Linked DNA regions of Homo sapiens: all the other regions are linked to region 3. Evidence: fine-mapped expression QTL. A gene starts in region 3. Each other region holds a variant in brackets. All regions are shown on one strand. Distances are between the middles of the regions. Region 1 has its middle 6.3 kb from the start of LINC02926. Region 2 overlaps ZNF791 (zinc finger protein 791). Region 3 holds the start of MAN2B1 (mannosidase alpha class 2B member 1). Region 4 overlaps RNASEH2A (ribonuclease H2 subunit A). Region 5 overlaps ZNF791 (zinc finger protein 791). Region 6 holds the start of SNORD135 (small nucleolar RNA, C/D box 135).

Region 1 (4,086 bases), 110 kb after region 3:
TTGACATAGACTTCCCCTAGCTTGGGAAGTGAAGCTTGGAAAGCTTCTAATTTGGCTGGATCAGCATTAGCCTTGTTCCCAGAAGCATCTTTTCCCTTCCCTCTTCCTCCACATGAAAGCGGAGGTTCTCCCGCAGGATGACAGACCCAGCAGCTGGGTTGGTACAGGCTTTCTCCACTTCTGGGCCTACACAGTCCTTCAAGAACAGAACATCCTTGCCCAGCAGAGATTTGAGTTCTACAGCAACTGGCTCTGAGGAGTACTTGTCAGGCATAGGGACACCATCAGGCCAACCTAGGTGGCTTATAAGGACTACTGACTTGGATCCATTGTCCAAGCAGAATTTGATGCTTGGGACAGCAGCCTTAATCCTCCAGTTGTTTGTTACCTGGTTGTTCTTCATAGGAAAATTGAAGTCGACTCTCATAACGACCGGCTTCCCTTTCACGTCCAGCTTGTCCAGCATCAGCTTGTTAGAAAGCGACATTTTGGAAATACAGCTGGGGAGACAGCTTGGTAATTCAGACAGCCAGGGAGCCGGCTACCGACGTGTGCTCGGGAGGTTTGCAGAATCCAGTGGTATACTTTTTTTTTTTGGAGATGGAGTCTCGCTCTCTTGCCCAGGCTGGAGTGCAGTGGTGCGATCTCCGCTCACTGCAAGCTCTGCCTCCTGGGTTCACGCCAGTCTCCTGCCTCAGCCTCCCGAGTAGCTGGAACTACAGGCTCCCGCCACCACACCCGGCAAATTTTTTGTATTTTTAGTAGAGACGGGGTTTCACCATGTTAGCCAGGATGGTCTCCATCTCCTGACCTCCTGATCCACCCACCTCGGCCTCCCAAAGTGCTGGGATTACAGGCGTGAGCCACCGCACCTGGCCAGTGGTGTACTTTTTAACAAAAATTTATTTTGAGGTCATTGCATATTCACATGTAGGAAATTATACAGCCATTTTCTCTCAATGGTAACATGTTGCATAGCTGTAGTACAATGTCCTAATCAGGAAATTTCATCTCACCCACCTCCGTCAACCCAATGAACAAGTACAGAGAGTACACTGTTCACAGAGGTGGTTCAACAATTCTACTTCCAAAGAGTATTTCCCACCAGTTTTTTTTCTTTTTTTATTTTTTGAGACAGAGTCTCACTCTGTCACCTAGGTTGGAGTGCAGTGGCACGATCTCAGCTCACTGCAGTCTCTGCCTCCTGGGTTCAAGCGGTTCTCGTGCCTCAGCCTCCTGAGTAGCTGAGGGATTACAGGCACTCACCACCAAGCCTAGCTACTTTTTGTGTTTTCAGTAGAGACAGGGTTTCGCCATGTTGGCCAGGCTGTTCTGGAACTCCTGACCTCAAATGATTCACCAGCCTCAGCCACCCAAAGTGTTGGGATTACAGGCGTGAGCCACTGTGCCCCATCAGTTGTTTTTTTTTTTTTGTTTTTTTTTTTGAGACACAGTCTCGCTCTGTCACCCAGGCTGGAGTGCAGTGGCGCAGTCTCAGCTCACTGCAAGCTCCGTCTCCCAGGTTCACGCCATTCTCCTGCCTCAGCCTCCCAAGTAGCTGGGACTACAGGCACCCACCACCACGCCTGGCTAATTTTTTGTATTTTTAGTAGAGACAGGGTTTCACCATGTTAGCCAGGATGGTCTCGATCTCCTGACCTCGTGATCCACCTGCCTTGGACTCCCAAAGTGCTGGGATTACAGGCGTGAGCCACCGTGCCTGGCCCCAGCCCCATCAGTTTTTAAAAGTTATTTACAAAAAGTATTATTTGCCGGGCGCAGTGGCTCATGCCTGTAATCCAAGCACTTTGGGAGGCCTAGGTGGGTGGATCATCTGAGGTCAGGAGTTCAAGACCAGCCTAGCCAACATGGTGAAACCCTGTCTCTACTAAAAACACAAAAGGTAGCTGGGCATGGTGGTGCACCCCTGTAATCCCAGCTACTCAGGAGGCTGAGGCAGGAGAATTGCTTGA[G/A]CCCAGGAGGCGGAGGTTGCAATGAGCCGATATCGTGCCACTGCACTCCAGCCTGGGTGACAGAGTGAGACTCCGTCTCAACAAAAACAAAAACAAAAAACAGTGTTATGCTACTACTACTTTTAAATACATGAAGCACTTCCAAATATCTAGAAATACTAGATATTTCATCTAACTTGTCCACCATGTACACGCACTGTTAAATAAAATTCCACACATGTAACCGTGGTTATAATCTGAGGTATCTCCTAAATATGACCATTTTGGCCTTGAACCATTCCCTCCTCACTTCCTTCTCTCTGCTTTCAATCCAGTGGACAAGTACACGCATGTGTAATGCTTAGAGATGGTTGAACAAACTCCTATCCAAAAGTCATCCACAGAAGACAAGTTTCCTATGAATTTCAACACAAAGTATACAAAATATGCTAAATTTACTAAGTACTTTATCACACACTGGCAACCTCTTTAACATCCAGCAATTAGATGTTGCAAAATCAGGATGCATTTGCCCATTGTATATGCTATATACAGAGCAAAACAAAATGCACAAAACATACAGAAAAATAGTGTCTGAAAATGTCCAATTATGAACACACTGGCCTATTACCTTTTGCAATTTCTTCCCTCCCACCTCCTCTAAACTATCGAACAACTATACACAGTACTACACTGCTCACAAAGGTGGTTAAACAATTCAATTTCCAAAAGGCAGTGTTTCCTATAAATTTTAACAAAAAGATATTTACAGTGATATTTCACTACCTCTATATTTAATATACGTGGGACACTTCCAAACATCTAGGTAGACTAGACATTTGAAGTAAGGAGTTAATTTTTCCACTATGTAACAGCAGTCTTGAATAAACTGCAAACATGTGACAACAGTTATAATTTGAAAGTCTTCCAAATATGAACATTCTGGCCTAGAACCCTTTCTGTCTCCATCAACCCAGTGGGCAAAAATGCTCAAATTTTCAGAAGACAATATTTCATAGGAATTTTATTTTTTATTTTTATTTATTTATTTATTTATTTTTGAGACGGAGTTTCGTTCTTGTTGCCCAGGCTGGAGTGCAATGACAAATGTAGAGTTCGTAAATGAATATATTTTGCATATTTTGTTTTAAAATTCCTAGGAAAGGCCAGGCGCCTTGGCTTGCACCTGTAATCCCAGCAGTTTGGGAGGCTGAGGCCAGCAGATCACCTGAGGTCAGGAGTTTGAGACCAGCCTGGCAAATGTGGTGAAACCCAATTTCTACAAAAATACAAAAAAATTAGTGGGGCGTGGTGGTGGGTGCCTGTAATCCCAGCTGCCTGGGAGGCTGAGGCAGAAGAATCACTTGAACCCGCGACGTGGAGGTTGCAGTGAGCTGACATCCTGCCATTGCACTCCAGCCTGAGCGACAGAGTGAGACTCTGTCTCAAAACAAACAAACAAACAAAACAAACAAACCCGGGAGCGGTTGCTCACGCCTGTAATCCCAGCACTTTGGGAGGCTGAGGCGGGCGGATCACGAGGTCAGGGGGTCGAGAGTAGCCTGACCAACATAGTGAAACCCCGTCTACTAAAAATATAAAAATTAGCCGGGCGTGGTGGTGTGGCCTGTAGTACCAGCTACTTGGGAGGCTGAGGCAGGAGAATCACTTGAACCCGGGAGGCGGAGGTTGCAGTGAGCTAAGATTGCGCTACTGCACTCCAGCCTGGGCAACAGAGAAAGACTCTGTCTCAAACAAATAAAATTAAATAAATAAAAAAAATTTTAGGTTGAGGGAGAAGTTGAGCAGCTTTTTCCTATTATAGACACAGGCCTTCTTCTTCTTTTTTTTTTGAGCTGGAGTTTCACTCTTGTTGCCCAGGCTAGAGTGCAATGGTGCGAGCTCGGCTCACTGCAAGTGATTCTCCTGCCTCAGCCTCCCGAGAAGCTGGGATTACAGGCGTCCGCCACCACGCCCGACTAATTTTTGTATTTTTAGTAGAGACCGGGTTTCACCATGTTGGTCAGGCTGGTCTTGAACTCCCGACCTCAGGTGATCCATCCGCCTTGGCCTCCCAAAGTGCTGTGATTACAGGCGTGAGCCACCACCGTGCCTGGCCTACACAGGCCTTCTA
Region 2 (4,086 bases), 36 kb after region 3:
AAATAAATATATAATGGGTAATATATGCACCACCTTCCACATGAGGCCAGTAGGAAAAATCCTAGTTACAGTGTGTCAGTATTCAACAATCTCTTTATTCAGAGAACAACTGAAAAACTATACACAAATTAAAACTAATTGTATATTAAAAATACACTTCTACTAACACTGGTCTTTAAAAGAAAAAAAAAATACACTTCAGGCCGGGTGCGGTGGCTCAAGCTTGTAATCCCAGCACTTTGGGAGGCTGAGGCGGTCGAATCACGAGGTCAGGAGATTGAGACCATCCTGGCTTAACACGGTGAAACCCCATCTCTACTAAAAATACAAAAAAAATTAGCTGGGCATGGTGGCGGGCGCCTGCAGTCCCAGCTACTGGGGAGGCTGAGGCAGGAGAATGGCGTGGACCCGGGAGGCGGAGCTTGCAGTGAGCCGAGATCACACCGCTGAACTCCAGCCTGGGCAACAGAGCAAGACTCCGTCTCGAAAAAAAAAAAATACACTTCAGTTTACTCATGAATCAAGACATCAAGAGAAAGAGAAAAGTTTTACTAACTGATTTAATGAGAAAACACAACCTTTTAAACTTTTGACCACTGCTTAAAGAGTACTTACAGAATTATCTCACTTCCAAGACTTCTTGGAAAAGTAGTTAAGTTACAATTCATAGTCCAGAGATGTACTTGAAGAATGAGCCAGTGATAAAAAATTTTTAACTTTTTTTTGGTGTGTGGGATGGAGTCTTGCTCTGTTGCCCAGGCTGGAGTGTAGTGGCACAATCTCAGCTCACTGCAGCCTCCACCTCCCAGGTTCAAATGATTCTCCTGCTTCAGCCTCCCAAGTAGCTGGAATTACAGGTGCATGCCACCACGCTCAGGTAATTTTTGTATTTTTAGTAGAGATGGGGTTTCACCGTCTTGGCCAGGCTGGTCTCGAACTCCTGACCTCAGGTGATCTGCCTGCCTTGGCCTCCCAAAGTGCTGGGATTACAGGCATGAGCCACCATGCCTTGCCTTAACTTTTATATCGTGTGTGATGAATTTATATCATGGTGTGAATTTTCTGGAGCATTTTACAGGCAGAGATTGCTTAATCATGGGTATATGTTCTGAGAAACGTGTTGTAGGTGATTTCCTCATGGTACAAACATCACAAAGTGAACTTACACAAATCTAGATGGTATAGCTACAACACATCTAGACTATATGGTACAGTCTATTGCTACTAGGCTATAAACCATACAACATGTTGTTGTACTGAACACTGTAGGAAATTGTAACAAAATGTTAAGTATTTATGAGTCTAAACACAGAAAATACACAGAGTAAACATGCAGTATAAAAGATAAAAAAGGATGCACCTGCATAGGACACTCCATGAACATAGCTTGCAGGACTAGAAGTTGCTCTGGGTGAGTCAGTTGAGTGGTGAGTGAATGCGAAGGCCCAGGATGTTACTGTACACTAATGGAGAATTTATAAACACTGTACACTTGGACTACACTACATTCATAAAAACATTTTTTCCTCAATAATGAATAAACCTTAACTTACTGTACATTATTTTCTTTATAAACTTATTTTTAAAAACTTTGTAATAATTTAGCTTAAAACACATTGTACAGCTGTACAAAAATATTTTATGTCCATATTCTATAAGCTTTTTCTATTAAATTTTTTTAAACTATTTTTGTTAAAGACTAACTAAGACACAAACACACATTAGTGTAGGACTACACGGGGTGAGGATCATCAATATCATTGTCTTCTGCCTCCATGTTTTGTCCCGCCAGAATACGTTCAGGGGCAGTCCTGCACATGGAGCCGTCATCGCCTATCATAACAA[A/T]GTTTTTCCGGGAATATCTCCTTAAGGACCTGCCTGAGACTGTCTTACTGTTAAAAAAACACAGGAATACATTCTAAAACAGGATTGTAAATATATAAACCAGTAACTTAGCCATTTATTATCAAGTATATATTGCACATCTGTGCTGTAATTTTTTTTTTTTCGAGACGGAGTCTCGCTCTGTCACCCAGGCTGGAGTGTAGTGGTAGATCTCAGCTCACTGCAATCTCCACCTCCCGGGTTCAAGCGATTCTCCTGCTTTGGCCTCCCAAGTAGCTGGGACTACAGGCACACCAGAACGCCCAGCTAATTTTCGTATTTCTAATGGAGACAGGGTTTCATCATGTTGACCAGGCTGGTCTTGAACTCCTGACCTCAACTGATTCTCCCACCTCAGCCTCCCAAAGTGCTGGGATTACAGGTATGAGCCACTGTGCCCAGCCAATTTTTTTTTTTTTTTTTTGATACAGTCTCACTGTCACCCATGCTGGACTGCCATCACGTGATCTTGGTTCACTGTAGCCTTGAACTCCTGGGCTCAGGCAATCCTCCTGCCTCAGCCTCCCATGTAGATGGGACTACAGGGTGTGCTACCACACTTAGAAAATGTTTTTATTTTTTGTAGAGACAGGGTCTCACTAGGTTGACCAGAGTAGTCCTGGCATCAAGCAATCCTACTGCCTTAGTCTCCCAGTGTTGGGATCACAGGTGTGACCATGCCCAGCTGTGTTGTACTTTTTTTTTTTTTTTTTTTTTGAGACAGAGTCTCGCTCTGTTGGCCGGATCTCAGCTCACTGTCAGCTCGGCCTCCTGGGTTTATGCCATTCTCCTGCCTCAGCCTCCCAAGTAGCTGGGACTACAGGCGCCCACCACCACGCCCGGCTAATTGTTTGTATTTTTAGTAGAGATGGGGTTTTACCGTGTTAGCCAGGATGGTCTTGATCTCCTGGCCTCGTGATCCGCCCGCCTTGGCCTCCCAAAGTGCTGGGATTACAGGCGTGAGCCACCGTCCCCGGCCGCTGTCTTGTACTTTTATACAACTGAAAGTGCAGCACGTTTACACCAGCACCATAAACACTTAAATAATGTGCTGCACTATGGTGTTACTACTGCTACTAAATTGCGGTTGATAGAAATGTTTTAGGTGTTATATAATCTTATGGGGCTACCAACCTATATGGTCCATTGCTGACTGAAACATGATTATGTGGTACCTGACTATACATGAATCATCTTGTATCTCGCTTTCTATATTACTTACATTGACAGGATTTCTCTCTTCAGTGGGAATTTTCACAACTTTGAAAGCATCTGTTAGAATTGAAAACTTTCTCCTATTTCTCACATTTATAGAGTTTCTATCGATTGTGCATTCTCATATGTTTTTTTAAGGATGTGGACACACTGAAGGCTTTTCCACATTGCTTACATTCAAGAGGTTTCTCATAATTGTGAATTCTTGTATGTCTTTGAAAGGAACTGTGAAGACTAAAGGCCTTCCCACATTCTTTACATTTATAGGGTTTCTCTCCAGTATGCATTCTCATGTGTCCTTGAAAGCTTGTGGGATAAATAAAGGCCTTCCCGCATTCCTTACATTCATAAGGTTTCTCCCCAGTGTGAGTTCTTTTATGTATCCGAATGTAACTAGAACAACTAAAGGCTTTTCCACATTGTTTACATTCATAGGGTTTCTCTCCAGTGTGAGTTCTTTCATGTGTTCGTAACGCACTAGGAAAAATGAACACCTTCCCACAGTCCCTACATTTATAAGGTCCGTCTCCAGTGTGGGTGATCATGTGTCTTCGAAAGTTCTCAAGAGAAATGAAGGTTTTTGCACATTCCTTACACTCATAGGGTTTTTCTCCAGTGTGATTTCTCTTGTGGATTTTCAAATCTAGAGGATAATTGAAAGTTTTCCCACATTTTTTACATTCGTAGGGTTTCTCTCCAGTGTGAGTCCTTTCATGTATTCGAAAGTAACTGATTCTACTAAAGGCTTTCCCACATTCTTTACACTTATAGGGTTTCTCTCCAGTATGCACTCTCACGTGTACTCGAAAGGCTGGGCGTGCACTGAAAGATTTCCCACATTCTTTACATTTATAGGGCTTCTCTCCAGTATGAATTCTTTCATGAATTTGAATGGAGGTGGAACATCTGAAGGCTTTACCACATTGTTTACATTTATAGGGTTTCTCTCCAGTGTGAATTCTTTCATGTACTCGTAAAAAACTGGGA
Region 3 (4,080 bases):
CAGGTTGGGGATGTGGCAGATTGGTCTGCGAGTGGGGCCAGGCTTTGAAGCAACTTGGAGAGGAGTTGTGGAAAAAGGGCAGGGTCTTAAGCATGTGGGATGTCAGAGTCTCTCTTGGTCCTGAGAGACGCAGGCCAGACAGTAGGACTAGAAACCACGTATCTAGAGTATGCCATGAGCAGGTGGGACTGAGGAATTCCGGGTGGGGCAAGGTCCCAGCTGCATCAGATGGAATCAGTGGGCATGATCTGGTGTCTGGAAAGGTGGCTTCGGGGACTCATTGTTGTGCCTTTCACTAACCTGCCCACCCACTTACCTTTCCCTAGCTGAAGTGGTGTGCTTGGGTCGCTGTCTACTGCTCCTTCATCAGCTTTGCCAACTCTCGGAGCTCGGAGGACACGAAGCAAATGATGAGTAGCTTCATGTGAGACTTGCCCTACAGAACAAGTGACTCTTGAGTAAGGGGTGGGGGGACCCCAGCCTGGCCATCCTAGACTGACACCTCTCTCCTGTCTCAGGCTGTCCATCTCTGCCGTGGTGATGTCCTATCTGCAGAATCCTCAGCCCATGACGCCCCCATGGTGATACCAGCCTAGAAGGGTCACATTTTGGACCCTGTCTATCCACTAGGCCTGGGCTTTGGCTGCTAAACCTGCTGCCTTCAGCTGCCATCCTGGACTTCCCTGAATGAGGCCGTCTCGGTGCCCCCAGCTGGATAGAGGGAACCTGGCCCTTTCCTAGGGAACACCCTAGGCTTACCCCTCCTGCCTCCCTTCCCCTGCCTGCTGCTGGGGGAGATGCTGTCCATGTTTCTAGGGGTATTCATTTGCTTTCTCGTTGAAACCTGTTGTTAATAAAGTTTTTCACTCTGGCTGTCAGCCTCTTCTGTTCAGTGGGGTGTTCCTCCTACCTGGCGGGAAGGGCTCTAGCCCCATAGGCCTGGTGTGGGGCCCCAGTCTGGAGGCTTCTGGCTGTTCATTTGCTTACTTCATAAACCTTGTGTCTTAAGTCAGGTGCTAGGGACAAGACAGTGACTTCTGCCCTCTGGCAACTCACCAGATGGCCCTGCTGACCTAGATAATCTAGGCTTTGGTTTCCTTTTTTTTTTTTCCTTTTTAAGAAAGAAAATGGTCTTGATCTGTCATGCAGGCTGAGTGCAGTGGCACAATCTATGTTCACTGCAGCCTCAAACTCCTGGGCTCAAGCAATCCTCCCACCTCAGCCTGCCACGTAACTGGGACCACAAATGCGTGCTACCATGCCCAGTTAATTCTTGTTTTTTTTGAGACAGAGTTTTGCTCTTGTTGCCCAGGCTGGAGGGCAATGGCATGATCTTGATCTCGGCTCACTGCAACCTCCGCCTCCCAGGTTCAAGTGATTCTCCTGCCTCAGTCTCCCAAGTAGCTGGGATTACAGGCATGTGCCACCATGCCCAGCTAATTTTTGTATTTTTACATTTTGTGTAAAATTACAAATTTTGTGTTTTCAAACCCGTCTCTACAAAACAACCCATGTTGCCCAGGCTGGTCTCAAACTCCCAGGCCCAAGTGATTCACCAGCCTGGCCCTCCCAAAGTGCTGGGATTGCAGGCTTGAGCCACTGCGCCTGCCCTGGGCTTTGTTTTCTTATCAGAGAATGAACTGGTAGGAATTGGGAAAGGCATGAAAGACTCGGGGTCCTTCCCCACTTGTCAGACCCTCTTTTCTCTCCGGAACACCCAGGGATCCTTCTCAACCAGGCTGGATCCCATCCCTGGTACTCCAGGGGTATTTACCCAACGTCCCAATCCCCACAGTATAGGACTCTTCATCAGATCCTCCTCTTAGGCAAGCTAGGTCCTTCCAGGACCCTAGCGCTGAAGGTCCATGGGACGGACACCCTGGATTCCCATGGACACACTACACCGGCTAGGAAAACCCGGCCCCCTTAGGAAAAGCACTTCTGCTCCTACCGGCATTAAGAGGCATTCCGTCTTGGAATTCCGGCATTAAGAGGCATTCCGTCTTCATAGCCCGTGAGACGCCAGTGTCACCTTTAGCCCAACCAGTGCCCTGAGGGTGGCATTTTCCTACCTTCCTGTAACGACCCCCGGGATTGCCCAGGGCTACAGCCTCTCTCCCGTGAGCCTCCAGACCGCGCCCTGGCCCCGCCCCCCACCCCGATTGGCCCGGCCGGGTCTGGGGGCGGGGCGTTTGCCCGGCCTTTCCAGGGCCGGGGAACCCCAGGAGGAAGCTGCTGAGCCATGGGCGCCTACGCGCGGGCTTCGGGGGTCTGCGCTCGCGGCTGCCTGGACTCAGCAGGCCCCTGGACCATGTCCCGCGCCCTGCGGCCACCGCTCCCGCCTCTCTGCTTTTTCCTTTTGTTGCTGGCGGCTGCCGGTGCTCGGGCCGGGGGATACGAGGTGAGTGGGGCCTCCGAGCTGAAACGTACAGGAGGCAGAGTGAAACCCAGAATACAGTCTAGAGGTGTGGGTGGGTCTGTCCTGTGGGTGTCTAGTGAATGGCTGATGATATGACAGTGTGGTCTGAGTGCGTGCTTTGTGTCATTGCGAGGTCTGGCTGTGCGCATCTGAGTATAGGACTGTGTCTGATTGTACCTGCCTCCGTGTCTCCGGGATGCTTGCCTAGACTTTGTCTGCACTTAACTGTGGGATTGGAGGGGCAGGAGGTGGCAGGGGGTGAGCAGTGTATGTGTGGGGGGAGGTGCTGGCTGAGAGCTGGGACTCTGGAGTCTGCCTGAAATTCCAGCCTAGCTCTTACACTTCCTGAGTGTGTGACGTTGGGCAAGTCACCTATCCTCTCTAAGCCTCAGTGCCTTCATCTGGAAACTGGGGATAACATCACCCCACCTCCCACGGTGGCCGTCTGCTGTCGGCAAATGCTGAACAAACATCAGCTACTTCTATTATTATTTTCCCGGAGTGTGAATGAGAGCTGCCCTGTGGGGTTGTGCAAAGTGGAGTTGTATCTATGAGCACAACTATGTATGTGTGTGTCCTGCCTGGGAGGGCCTGGCCTCCTCTGCACATAGGCGAGATCAGGCCTCTCTGAGTCACTCACCTCTAGATCAAGACTTACTCTGCAGCCCCCGACCTCGGGGGTTATTGACAAGGTATGTGTGTTTGGGGTCCCTGTGCAGACATGCCCCACAGTGCAGCCGAACATGCTGAACGTGCACCTGCTGCCTCACACACATGATGACGTGGGCTGGCTCAAAACCGTGGACCAGTACTTTTATGGAAGTGAGTAGAGGATGGGGACTGGTCCCTGGGATCCCCATGGTCCCTGTAATCCCTCTGGGTCCTGGACATTAGGGTGGGGCCAGTGCTACCCTAATATCCAGGGTTTGGGCTCCTCTGTCTAGGAATAACCCCCTTGGCTCTGCTGTTCCCTGAGAGCCTTATCCCTGTTATCCACAGTCAAGAATGACATCCAGCACGCCGGTGTGCAGTACATCCTGGACTCGGTCATCTCTGCCTTGCTGGCAGATCCCACCCGTCGCTTCATTTACGTGGAGATTGCCTTCTTCTCCCGTTGGTGGCACCAGCAGACAAATGCCACACAGGAAGTCGTGCGAGACCTTGTGCGCCAGGGTGAGCCTACCCCAAGGAAGTGAAAAGAGGAAGCCCAGCCCAGCTTCTGCTTCTGCATCTCTGGTTTCTGAGATTTGTCATGCCACGTGCAAGCTGTATAACATGCGTGTCGCTCCGCCTGCCTGGACTCTCCATTTGGAGACCTCCTATACATCCCACAAAGCCCCACCTGCTGTGCATCCTCTGGGAAGCCTGCCATGCAGGGGGCCTCTTTCCCATATCTGGGAACTATGGCCTGGGAGCGACCCCTCTTGTCCTTCCGCCAGAAATGTGTACACAGGCAGGCTTTCACATTCCCAGTATCACCCACCCTACTCCCACTCCTGGCTCTGACCGCTGACCCTGACCTTGCCTGTCCTGGCACAGGGCGCCTGGAGTTCGCCAATGGTGGCTGGGTGATGAACGATGAGGCAGCCACCCACTACGGTGCCATCGTGGACCAGATGACACTTGGGCTGCGCTTTCTGGAGGACACATTTGGCAATGAT
Region 4 (4,073 bases), 140 kb before region 3:
AGCGGTTCTCCTACCTCAGCTTCCCAAAGTGCTGGGATTACAGGCATGAGCCACCACGCCTGGTCCCCTTCCCCTTAACAAAGGGACAAATGCCCACCTTGGGTCTCAGTCCATCACTGGGGCTCCAGAAAGACAGCAAAGTGGGAAGCGGGGAAGACAGCAGCAATCCTATGGCCTGGAATTCAGCTCTATCACTCACTGGCTGTGTGGCCATAAACAAATGGCACCACTGTCTAACACTTGGCCTCTTTCACTGTGGAGTAGGGTGACCAGAGCAATTTAGAAAACCTCCAGCCAGGCACAGTAGTTCACACCTGTAATCCTAGCTATTTGGGAGTCCAAGGCAGGAGGATCACTTAAGCCCAGGAATTCAAGACCAGGCTGGGCAACATAGGGAGACCCCATCTCTTTAAAAAAAGAAGAAAAAAAGGGCCAGGGGTGGTGGCTCATGGCTGTAATCCCAGCACTTTGAAAGACCAAGGTGGGAGGACTGCTTGACTCCAGGAATTTGAGACCAGCCTGGGCAACATGACAAGACCCCATCTCTATAAAAACAAAAAATAGGCTGGGCACGGTGGCTCATGCCTGTAATCCCAGCACTTTGGGAGGCTGAGCCAGGCAGATCACCTGAGGTCAGGAGTTCAAGACCAGCCTGACCAACATGGAGAAAACTAGTCTCTACTAAAAACACAAAATTAGCTGGGTGTGGTGGCACATGCCTGTAATCCCAGCTACTCGCGAGGCTGAGGCAGGAGAATCGCTTGAAGCCAGGAGGTGGAGGTTGCGGTGAGCCGAGATCGCACCATTACACTCCAGCCTGGGCAAAAAGAGCGAAACTCCGTCTCAAAAAATAAACAAAAATAACAAATAAAAACAAAAAATAAGCAAAATAAAATGATAAATGACAGAAAGGAAAAAAAGAAAACCTCAGAAGTGTGCTCAGCCCTGGCCATTTCAACATTAGTACCATGGTCACGTGTCTGCTCACCATTGGGGTAGCCTGAGCCATAATCAGTATCCAAGTCCTGCAGTTTCTCCACGAACTGCCATTTCTTCACGGCCTGGTCCCGGGCCACCTGTGGGCAAAACAGGCACCTGGAATCTCCCTCCTTCCCTTTGGTGGCCATGCCTGGCCCCTATATAGTGGGATGGTGGAAGCCAGCCATGGCTAGTAGGGTACTGACCTTGGCACAGATGCTGGCAGCACTAACCACCGGGTAGAGGGCATCTGCTTTGGCCTTGACCGTCACCTCAATCCCGGGAAAACTTTGCTGCAGCCGCGCCTGGTATGTCTCTGGCATCCCTACGGTGTCCACGAATACCTGCCACAGCAACAGACACATATTAATTGAACAAACAACTGTACCAATGCTCTAGCCTCACAGCCCTGGCACGTTCTTCCTGCTACCCAGAATCCTCTTCTCCAGCACGTCCCCAGGATGGATCAATCAGGGATTTCAACTCGAACATCTCCTCCTAGACCAGGCAAAGTTGTTCAGGCCTGTGATCCCAGCACTTTGGGAGGCTGAGGCGGGAGGATCGCTTGATCCTGGGAGTTTGAGGCCAGGCTTGGCAACACAGTGAGACCCCATCTTTATAAAAACATAAAATAAATACAATAAAATAAAGAAAAAACTCACCTCCTGAAGAGGCTTTCTCTATCACGCTGCTTTTACTCTAACTTATTTAGCACCTACTGCATGCCACATACTGTTCTAGGAACTGAGGTGGCAGAAAACACTAGAAAAAAATTGGTAGAGTGC[G/A]TTAGCACAAGCCTGTAATCCCAACACTTTAGGAAGCCGAAGTGGGAGGATCGCTTGAGGGCAGGTGGTTGAGACCAACCTGGGCAACATATGGAGACCCTGTTTCTACAAAAAATAAAAAGTTAGCTAGGTGTAGTGGTGAATAAAGGCTTGAAGGAGGTGAGGAAGTGAACTGTGCAGAGATCTGGGGAAGAGGGCTCTAGGTGTGAGAACAGCCAGTACAAAGGCCCTGAGCTGGGACCAGGTTCATGATGCTGGGCCCATGCATGGGGGCCTTTGGCTGCAGCACCGAAGAGAGGGTCCAAGAGCTGCTGGGGGAAAGTGGTATCTCCACAGCACTACTGTTTTCAGAAACAACCTTTATTTTTTGTTTACCAGCTGACCATCTTTCATGTTTTATTTTTTTATTTTTTATTTTTAGTAGAGATGGGGTTTCACCATGTTGGTCAGGCTGGTCTCGAACTCCTGACCTGATGATCCGCCCGCCTCGGCCTCCCAAAGTGCTGGGATTACAGGCGTGAGCTACTGCGCCCAACCTCCAGCTGACCATCTTTCTGCCCAGGCTAGGCCCTGAACGCCTACGGGTAGGGCCCTTGTCTGTCTACACCAGTTACTGTATCGCCAGCTCTGCATTTGGGCCTGGTCCTCAGGTCCCTCCTCAGCAGGGTCTACCTTGCTATAATTCCTTTCTTTCTTCTTCTTTTTGTGGAGATGGAGTCTCGCTATGTTGCCCAGGCTGGTCTGGAACTCCTAGCCTCAACCAATTTGCTCACCTCAGCTTCCCAAAGTGCTGGGATTACAGGCGTGAGCCACCATACCCAGCATACAATTCCTACGTCAAGGTTATTTTGCCTTGTTATTCTCTCAGAACGGTCCATTCTTTCATTGAGAGCATTCGAGGCAATGCTGATTTATGTTTTTCTCTGGTAATTTAATGTAATTCTGCCCCACTCGACTGTGAATTTTCCTGATTTAATTTCCACTGTGATCGGAAAACTAAATGTCGAGATGTGCATTTCAAAAAGACTACCTTCTGTTGCTGCTTGGGGAACAGATTGGAGGGGATAGGAGGGTGAGGGACGAGAGACGACACTCAGCAGGTGTCCAGGGAGTGGGGGGTGTCCTGGGCTAGGACAGAGGTGACAGGTAGACAATGTAGGATTTGTTCTGGAGACTGAGCCTTTAGGATGAGGGAGAGATTAGATGGAGACGGGACTAGGGGCTACACTGTGGTCGTCAGTGTGGCACACATTTAGGGCAGAAACAGGAGCACGAAATCAACAGTAGCAATGAATATGCCCGAGGCACTCCAGACGTATCTGATGCTGAATCTGCACACTGCACATTTTTGCCCACATTTATTTTTTATTTTATTTTTATTTTTATTTTTCGCTCTGTCCCCCAGGCTGGAGTGCAATGGCGCGATCTCACCTCACTGCAACCTCCGCCTCCCGGGTTCGAGCAATTCTTCTGCCTCGGCCTCACCAATAGGTGGGATTACAGGCACCCGCCACCATGCTGGGCTAATTTTTTGTATTTTCAGTAGAGATGAGGTTTCACCATGTTGGCCAGGATGGTCTTCAACTCCTGACCTCAGGTGATCTGCCTGCCTCAGCCTCCTGAAACGCTGGGATTACAGCCGTGAGCCACTGCGCCTGGTCTCCCATTTTTAGTTTATTTTTTATTTTTTATTTTTTTGAGACAGGGTCTTGCTCTGTTGCCCGGGTTGGAGTGCAATGGCACAATCTTGGCTCACTGCAACTTCTGCCTCCTGGGTTCAAGCGATTCTCCTGTCTCAGCCTCCTGAGTAGCTAGGATTACAGGCGCCTGCCACCACGTCCAGCTAATTTTTGTATTTTTAGTAGAGACGGGGTTTCACCATGTTGGTCAGGCTGGTCTCGAACTCTTGACCTCCGGTGATCTACCCGCCGCGGCTTCCCAAAGTGCTGCGATTATAGGCGTGAGCCACTGCGCCCTGCCTCCATTTTTGAGTTGGGGGGCTTCCTTTGTCACCCAGGATGGAGTGCTGTGGCATGATCATGGCTCACTGCAGTCTCGAACTCCTGTTTTGTCCCCATTTTATCCTGAGATGACCAAATGGGGACAACTTACAGTTAACTCACCTGGGTGACGTTCACGCCCTGGTCCAATGCATACTGTATAAGCCCAGTGGCTGTATCATGTGACAGGGAGTTCAGGTTGTATTTGACCCTGTGGTGGGGAACAGAGCCCAGTTAATCTCATTCTAGGAACAAAGCTTGGTCAGCCCATGCTGGCTGCCCCTCCCGGGGACCCCTCACCGCCCAAGCA
Region 5 (4,086 bases), 46 kb after region 3:
CTCGCTCTGCTACCTAGGCTGGAGTGCAGTGGTACAATCACAGTTCATTGGAGCCTAGTCCTCCCGGCTCAAGCAATCCTCCAACCTCAGCCTCCTGAGTAGCTGGGACTACAGGAACACACCACTACACCTAGGTAAGTATTTTGTGTATATTTTTTGTAGAGATGGGGTTTTGCCATGTTGCCCAGGCTGGTCTCAAACTCCTCAGCTCAAGCGATTCACTAGCCTTGGCCTCTCAAATTGCTGAGATTACAGGCAAGATCTTCAATTCTTTATGAGATAAATTCTTATTTCTTGTTTGTTTGTTTGTTGTTTTCTAAGAGACAGGGTCTTGCTCTGTCACCTAGGCTCAAGTGCAGCAATCCTAACTCACTGTAGCCTCAAATCCCTGGGCCCCCAAGACATCCTCCTGCCTCAGCTTCACGAGTAGTTAGGACTACAGATGTGCAACACCACTCCCAGATAAATGGGTTTTTTTTCTTTCTTTTTTTTTTTTTTTTTGAGACGGAGTCTCACTCTGTAACCCAGGCAGGAGTGCAGTGGTGCGATCTCGGCTCACTGCAACCTCCGCCCCTCCAGGTTTAAGCAATTCTCTGCCTCAGCCTCCGAAGTAGCTGGGATTATAGGCGCGTGCCACCACGCCCAGCTAATTTTTTGTATTTTTAGTAGAGATGGGGTTTCACCATCTTGGCTAGGCTGGTCTTGAACTCCCGACCTCGTGATCCACCCTCCTCGGCCACCCAAAGTGCTGGGATTACAGGCGTGAGCCACTGCCTCCGGCTGGGGTTTTGTTATATTGTCCAGGTTGACCTTTAACTCTCGGCCCCAAGTGATCCTCCTGCCCCGGCCTCCCAAAGTGTTGTGATAACAGGTATGAATAACCATACCCAGCCCACAGCCTAATTTCTTATTACCCAAATCATTCAGCATTCCTTAAGATATGGGATTAAATGAGGTGGAGGTTTTTTTTTTTTTTTTTTTTTGTTTGAGACAGTCTTTTTTTTATTATTTTTTTTATTTATTATTTTTTTTAATTTATTTTTTTATTGATAATTCTTGGGTGTTTCTCACAGAGGGGGATTTGACAGGGTCATGGGACAATAGTGGAGGGAAGGTCAGCAGATAAACAAGTGAACAAAGGTCTCTGGTTTTCCTAGGCAGAGGACCCTGCGGCCTTCCGCAGTGTTTGTGTCCCTGATTACTTGAGATTAGGGAGTGGTGATGACTCTTAACGAGCATGCTGCCTTCAAGCATCTGTTTAACAAAGCACATCTTGCACCGCCCTTAATCCATTTAACTCTGAGTGGACACAGCACATGTTTCAGAGAGCACAGGGTTGGGGGTAAGGTCACAGATCAACAGGATCCCAAGGCAGAGGAATTTTTCTTAGTGCAGAACAAAATGAAAAGTCTCCCATGTCTACTTTCTACACAGACACGGCAACCATCCGATTTCTCAATCTTTTCCCCACTTTTCCCGCCTTTCTATTCCACAAAGCCGCCATTGTCATCCTGGCCCGTTCTCAATGAGCTGTTAGGCACACCTCCCAGACGGGGTGGTGGCCGGGCAGAGGCGCCCCTCACCTCCCGGACGGGGCGGCTGGCCGGGCGGGGGGGCTGACCCCCCCCACCTCCCTCCCGGACGGGGCGGCTGGCCGGGCAGGGGGGCTGACCCCCCACCGAGGTGGAGGTTTTAATAAGTAAATACACATTGAGAATCTTCTATCCCCTTTTGTTATACATGAGAGGCCAGGAGGCTTGTGGAAATCCAACTTTTAAGAAGGTCTAGCTGCCTATATCGTCCTGAAGTATTTGAGGCCATCAGAAGCACTCAGATTCTGCTGACTGAATGGAAATACTCTTTTAGAGACGTATTAATTTCAACTTGTTTCCGATATATATATATCCCTATGTGTTGGCATTACAGGCATGAGCGACCACGCCCGGCTGTGTGTGTAATATCTATCATAGACCCAGTTTTTCCTTTTACTTTCTGTCCCATTTCGTGAGACTAGGAAGTTACTGGGAAGACAGCTCAGGCACAAGGAAGGGGCCCTCACAACTTAGACTTTCACAAAATCGTTATACCCATGAGCCTCAGAACTGCTTCCAACCAATTTTTAGCACAAATACATATACACATTGAGATAAAATGTCAGAAGAGCACTTTCTGGAAGATCCATAATCATGTCATCTGGGCTTTGCTGACCTTGAAGAATAGATTGACAGTATCAATTTTCAGGGGACTTCACTGATGTCCACAATGGTCTGATGGTGAATTTGCCCATGATTATAAAATTAACAGGTAATTTCATACCTCCAAAAGAACATAAAA[T/C]CTGGGTCAGGATGGCTCATGCCTGTAATCCCAGCACTGTGGGAGGCCGAGGCAGGTGGATCACCTCAGGTCAGGAGTTCGAGACCACCCTGGCCAACATGGAGAAACCCTGCCTCTACTAAAAATACAAAAATTAGTTGGGCATGGTGGTGCATGCATGTAATCTCAGCTACTCGGGAGGCAGAGGCAGGAGAATCGCTTGAACCCGGGAGGCAGAGGTTGCAGTGAGCCAAGATCGCACCACTGCAGTCCAGCCTGGGCAACAGAGCGAGACTCTATCTCAAAAAAAAAAAAAAAAAAAAAAAAGAACATAAATCCCCTTTCTCCAGTTTCAGGAGGAAGTGATCCCAGACAGACACTCTAGGGGCTGTTGTCCCAGGTTCTCTCATTTCCATGCACTCATGTGCACCATACGTTAAAAGATCCACACAGTTAGAAGGGGTTTTCTTAAGTAATTAGGACTATGGTCTGAGCAGGAAGAAATTTGGCTCCAGGGAGCTCTCCCTCGTGACAAGTCCATCTGCATGCCTGGGTGCTCTCTGTAAGGTTTATTTACATTTACATTTAATAGAAAATAAACATTTTGGCCAGGCGTGATGGCTCATGCCTATAATCCCAGCACTTTGGGAGGCTGAGGTGGGCAGATCGTTTGAGCCCAGGAGTTCGAGACCAGCCTGGGCAACATGGTGAAACCCTGTCTCTATAAAATATACAAAACTTGGCCAGGCGTGGTGGTGCACGCCTGTGGTCTCAGCTACTTGGGAGGCTGAGGTGGGAGGATTGCTTGAGCCTGCAAAGTCAAGGCTGCAGTGAGCCATAACTATACCACTGCACTCCAGCCAAAAATAAATAAAGACAGGCCAGGTGCGGTGGCTCACACCTGTAATCCCAGCACTTTGGGAGGCCAAGGCAGGTGGATCACGAGGTCAGAAGATCGAGACCATCCTGGCTCTACTAAAAATACAAAAAATTAGCTGGGTGCCGTGGCGGGCGCCTGTAGTCCCAGCTACTCGGGAGGCTGAGGCAGGAGAATGGCGGGAACCCGGGAGGCGGAGCTTGCAGTGAGCCGAGATCGCGCCACTGCACTCCAACCTGGGCGACAGAGCGAGACTCCGTCTCAAAAAAATAAATAAATAAAATAAAAATAAATAAATAAATAAAGATTTCATATATAGCCTTTTACTAAATAATAAAAAGAAAAAAAAACAGAAAAAAAAGGTTCATCTCCTTGCTAATGAGGATATAAATGTCAAATAGTTCCCACTTCAAACTGAGTAGGAAGACAAAACTAGTCGATTAAGATAACATTAGTGGCCGGGCGCGGTGGCTCACGCCTGTAATCCCAGCACTTGGGGAGGCCGAGGCAGGTAGATCATGAGGTCAGGAGATCGAGAGCATCCTGGCTAACACAGTGAAACCCCGTCTCTACTAAAAATACAAAAAATTAGCCAGGAGAAGTGGCGGGCGCCTGTAGTCCCAGCTAGTCGAGAGGCTGAGGCAGGAGAATGGCGTGAACACGGGAGGCGGAGCTTGCAGTGAGCCCAGATCGCGCCACTGCACTCCAGCCTGGGAGACAAATCGAGACTCCGTCTCAAAAAAAAAAAAAAAAAAAAAAAGATAACATTAGTGTTGATGACTACAGAGAACAATCATGTACAAACGGAGGATCAACTGATACACTCCACCACTTTTTTTAAGTTTGTAAATTTAAACTTGACCAAGATCCAGTAATTTTTTTCCAACTACCAGAGA
Region 6 (4,073 bases), 38 kb before region 3:
GGCCTGTAATCCCAGCTACTTGGGAGGCTGAGGCAGGAGAATTGTTTGAACCAGGAGGTGAAGGTTGCGGTGAGCCATGATCGTACCACTGCGCCCCAGCCTGGGCGACAGAGCGAGACTCTGCCTCAAAAAAAAATAAAGATAACCCGGGGCTTTGGGATGAGAGGCTTCTGTTGTTTCCCCTCCTGTGCCTGCCTTTACCTGGCTCTGTGAAATGAGTCTGGGCCAGTGATTTAAACTCTAAGCCTCAGTTTCCCTATATGTTGTGTGCGGCTGACTCTTCTCTCCATACGGTGGGTGTGGCTGGGCCCAATCAAACTGCCCCCTCTTGGTTCCCTTTCCTTGTAGGCTGCATGCAGGGCATGGTGCCCTACCTGCCTGAGCTGATCCCGCACCTGATCCAGTGCCTGTCGGATAAGAAGGCCTTGGTCCGCTCCATCGCCTGCTGGACGCTGAGCCGCTATGCCCACTGGGTGGTCAGCCAGCCACCCGACATGCACCTCAAGCCCCTGATGACAGAGCTGCTCAAACGCATCCTGGATGGCAACAAGAGGGTACAGGAGGCGGCCTGCAGGTGACCCTGGACCCCTGATCCCACAGCCCCCACTCTCCCCCGGCCACCCTCTGGGAAGTGATGACACCTGTGACTGTTGATGTGGAACTGATTTATCGCGTATTCGTACTGGCTGATCCTGAGTTGCCCTCCCCAACTGCCCATGGCCCAGTGTCACCTGCCATGGTCCACTGAGCCCCCGCTTCATCCTCCCTCCCACCAGTGCTTTTGCCACCCTGGAGGAAGAGGCCTGCACGGAGCTGGTGCCCTACCTCAGCTACATCCTGGACACCCTTGTCTTTGCCTTTGGGAAATACCAGCACAAGAACCTGCTCATCCTCTATGACGCCATTGGCACCCTGGCCGACTCTGTAGGCCACCACCTCAACCAGCCGGTGAGACCCCAGAGCGGCTCCCGCCTCCCGATCCCCGTGCCCCTGGGCATCCAGTGACCTGGTGGCAACCCCGTGTTGCACGCCAGGGACGTGGCCGTGACCTCGACAGGCAGACAGACAGACCCGGCCCCGCCCTCGCCCTGCTCCCAGTCTAGTGGGGGAGAAAGACAGTTATGAGACAGCGTGGTAAGTGCTGTGCTTCGGGAACCAGGAGGTGGTAACCCAGGCTCCCGGGGGGTGGGGTGGGGCGGGCGGTGCTTGGACAGGTGAGAAGAATGAAGGCCTCGAGGTCTGGCCAGATGGCAGGCCTTTCAGGGTCCCATGAGCCACGGTGAGGCGCTCAGGCCTCATCACTCGGGCAACAGGTACCTGAGTCACAGTCTGCCACCCCGACCCAGGGAGCGCCCATTTCGTGCTCCCTCTCCAGGAATACATCCAGAAGCTGATGCCCCCACTGATCCAGAAGTGGAATGAGCTCAAGGACGAAGACAAGGACCTCTTCCCCCTGCTGGAGGTGAGTGGGCTCCTGCCCCTCACCCGAAACCCATCCTGCCCACCCTGCCTGAGTTCTCCCCACCTGCCTTCCTCCCTGCCAGTGTCTGTCATCGGTGGCCACCGCCCTGCAGAGTGGCTTCCTGCCTTACTGTGAGCCCGTCTACCAGCGCTGTGTCACCCTGGTGCAGAAGACACTGGCTCAGGCCATGGTGAGCAACCCTAGGCCCGTCACCTGTGCTTCTGCATTGGCCTGCCTCGGGCCTGCTCCACTTACCCGTGCCCCTGTCGGCATCTGTGTCTAGATGTACACCCAGCACCCTGAGCAGTATGAGGCTCCCGACAAGGACTTCATGATCGTAGCACTGGATCTGCTCAGCGGCCTGGCCGAGGGCCTGGGTGGTCACGTGGAGCAGCTGGTGGCCCGCAGCAACATCATGACATTGCTGTTCCAGTGCATGCAGGTGGGTGGGGACCCTGGACAGTGATGACACCCAGCAGCCTGCGTGGGCTGCCCCTGGTGGGGAGTCAGGGCCTGGTTGTGCCCAAAGGAAATCAGGGAAAAGGTGCTGTTCTAATTATTTTAAAGAGTAATCCTGGAGGCCGAGGCAGGATTGCTTGAGCCCAGGAGTTTGAGACCAGCCTGGGCAACATAGTGAAACCCCAGTTCTAAAATTAAAAAAAAAAATTTTTTTTAAAGCAAACAGTATTGAAAATAGAAAATGTGAGGCCAGGTGCTCACGCCTATAATCCAGCACTTTGGGAGGCTGTGGCAGGTGAATCACTTGAGGTCAGGAGTTTGAGAGCAGCTTGGCCAACACGGTGAAATCCTGTCTCTACGAAAAATACAAAAATTAGCCAGGCATGGTGGTAGGCGCCTGTAATCCCAGCTACTTGGAAGGCTGAGGCAGGAGAATTGCTTGAACCCAGGAGGCAGAGGTTGCAGTGAGCTGAGATCATGCCACTGCACTCCAGCCTGGGCAATAAACTGAGACTCTGTCTTCAAAAAAAAA[G/AG]AAAGAAAAGAAAATAGAAAATGTGAAAGCCCAAGTCCCTGCCCCAGCACAGTTGGCTCTCTGTATCTGTGGGTTCTACATCCCAAGATTCAAGTAACCTCAGATTGAAAATACTCAGAGGAAAAATTACATCTGTACTGAACGCATACAGAAGTTTGTTCTTGTTATTATTCCCTAAACAATACAGTATAACAACTATTCCCATACTGTTGACATTGTATTAGATATAAGTGATTTAGAGATGATGCTAAGTGTACAGGAGAATGTGCATAGGTGCATATGCAAACACTATGCCCCCCCCACCGCCCCCCACCTGTTTTTTGAGACAGAGTCTCACTCTGTCACCCAGGCTGGAGTGCAATGGTGTGATCTCGGCTCACTGCAACCTTCACCTCCAGGGTTCAAGCAGTTCTCCTGCCTTAGCCTCTCAAGAAGCTGGGACTACAGGCGTGTCCCACTATGCCTGGCTAATTTTATTGTATTTTTAGTAAAGACAGGGTTTTGCCATGTTGGCCAGGCTGGTCTCAAACTCCTGACCTCAAGTGATCTGCCTGCCTCGGCCTGCCAAAGTGCTGGAGATTACAGGCATGAACCACTGCGCCTGGCCCTAACACTGTGCCACTTTATATCAAGGACTTGCACATCCGTGGATTTTTATATCTGCAGGGACCTGGAAAGAATCCCCCACGGACACTGAGGGATGACCGTTGGGGCACTGCCATCTCCCATTTGCAGATGTGGGCTGGAGGCTAGGGAGGTTAAGGAACAGCTAGGAGCTCTAGAACTGGAAAGTGGCAGAGGCTGGACATGCACCAGGGACTGTGCCCCCTGAGCTGTCCTGGTTAGAAGGAGGGGAGCCTAGCCACACTGATCTTACTTGAATCCCCAGGACTCGATGCCTGAGGTCCGGCAGAGCTCCTTTGCCCTCCTGGGAGACCTCACCAAAGCCTGCTTCATCCATGTCAAGCCCTGTATCGGTACGACACTCGCCTTGTCCCTAACCCATGACCCCAGCCCCGGCCTCAAGTGATGGAGAGCAATACCCGGGGATGACTGTGACCACATTGGGATGTATTCGTACTGTCTGATGGGGCCTGCTGGACTAGGTCCTGCAGCTTACCCTGGCTGGCCCTCCTTCTCAGCACCCCTGTTTCTCCCCACCAGCCGAGTTCATGCCCATTCTGGGCACCAACCTGAACCCAGAGTTCATCTCCGTCTGCAACAACGCCACCTGGGCCATTGGTGAAATCTGCATGCAGATGGGTGAGTGCCCTGCAAGTGGCAACACGCGCCCCCCATTAGCCTGTTCTCAACCTGGGGGCGGGAGCCTAGCTCTGACTGACAGCTTCCTTCAAGGCAAGTCTCTTGGGGGTCGTCAGGGGTGGAGCCAAGCAGAAAGGTCATTTGTGATTGGCTTCTCTAAAGAGGAGGGATAGGAGGGCTGTTCTGATTGGACCGTTTTGTGTAGTTGGCTAAAAGACTCATTCGGATTGGTTGGGTGACTTTGGCTTTTTTTTTCCTTTGACTTGGGCAGCGTGTTGTCACCTTAGCGACTCCAGAGAAGCCTCTGTTGTTTGGAGGGTGTGGGTCTGTCCCTGGTTGGCCAGGGATTCTGGGTGG

Evidence for each region.
Region 1: its variant is fine-mapped to the expression of MAN2B1 in whole blood (TOPMed, PIP above 0.99).
Region 2: its variant is fine-mapped to the expression of MAN2B1 in whole blood (TOPMed, PIP above 0.99).
Region 4: its variant is fine-mapped to the expression of MAN2B1 in whole blood (TOPMed, PIP 0.98).
Region 5: its variant is fine-mapped to the expression of MAN2B1 in lung (TOPMed, PIP above 0.99). The same link has a PIP of 0.9 or more in T cells, atrial appendage, blood mononuclear cells, esophagus muscle, monocytes and nasal epithelium.
Region 6: its variant is fine-mapped to the expression of MAN2B1 in whole blood (INTERVAL, PIP above 0.99).

The regions. Positions count from the first base shown.
Region 1 is chr19:12,555,972-12,560,057 of GRCh38, reverse strand. It overlaps the pseudogene PGK1P2. Among named protein-coding and RNA genes, the nearest start is that of LINC02926, 6.3 kb to the right of the region's middle. The variant G/A (reference allele first, on the strand shown) is at 1,974.
Region 2 is chr19:12,628,378-12,632,463 of GRCh38, reverse strand. ZNF791 (zinc finger protein 791) reads right to left here. Exons shown (of 4, transcript NM_153358.3): 4 at 1-4,086. The coding sequence ends at 3,204. Among named protein-coding and RNA genes, the nearest start is that of ZNF791, 20 kb to the right of the region's middle. The variant A/T (reference allele first, on the strand shown) is at 1,846.
Region 3 is chr19:12,664,864-12,668,943 of GRCh38, reverse strand. It overlaps MAN2B1 (mannosidase alpha class 2B member 1), which reads left to right and starts at 2,202. Exons shown (of 24, transcript NM_000528.4): 1 at 2,202-2,401; 2 at 3,139-3,241; 3 at 3,419-3,592; 4 at 3,959-4,080. The coding sequence starts at 2,243. WDR83 (WD repeat domain 83) reads right to left here and starts at 2,137. Exons shown (of 11, transcript NM_001099737.3): 1 at 1,952-2,137; 2 at 317-436. WDR83OS (WD repeat domain 83 opposite strand) reads left to right here. Exons shown (of 4, transcript NM_016145.4): 3 at 327-424; 4 at 519-871. The coding sequence ends at 585. RefSeq lists a silencer at 2,060-2,339 and enhancers at 2,590-2,719, 2,740-2,869, 2,930-2,979, 3,520-3,569, 2,636-3,583 and 2 more.
Region 4 is chr19:12,807,320-12,811,392 of GRCh38, reverse strand. RNASEH2A (ribonuclease H2 subunit A) reads right to left here. Exons shown (of 8, transcript NM_006397.3): 3 at 4,064-4,073; 4 at 3,887-3,974; 5 at 1,185-1,322; 6 at 989-1,076. Among named protein-coding and RNA genes, the nearest start is that of RNASEH2A, 2.8 kb to the right of the region's middle. The variant G/A (reference allele first, on the strand shown) is at 1,764.
Region 5 is chr19:12,619,309-12,623,394 of GRCh38, reverse strand. All of the region lies in intron 1 of ZNF791 (zinc finger protein 791), which reads right to left. Among named protein-coding and RNA genes, the nearest start is that of ZNF791, 10 kb to the right of the region's middle. The variant T/C (reference allele first, on the strand shown) is at 2,335.
Region 6 is chr19:12,703,071-12,707,143 of GRCh38, reverse strand. TNPO2 (transportin 2) reads left to right here. Exons shown (of 26, transcript NM_001382241.1): 14 at 349-574; 15 at 777-948; 16 at 1,376-1,462; 17 at 1,545-1,652; 18 at 1,746-1,904; 19 at 3,343-3,430; 20 at 3,618-3,716. SNORD135 (small nucleolar RNA, C/D box 135) reads left to right here and starts at 3,473; the gene lies at 3,473-3,547. SNORD41 (small nucleolar RNA, C/D box 41) reads left to right here and starts at 626; the gene lies at 626-695. RefSeq lists enhancers at 3,091-3,699, 3,700-4,073. The variant G/AG (reference allele first, on the strand shown) is at 2,454.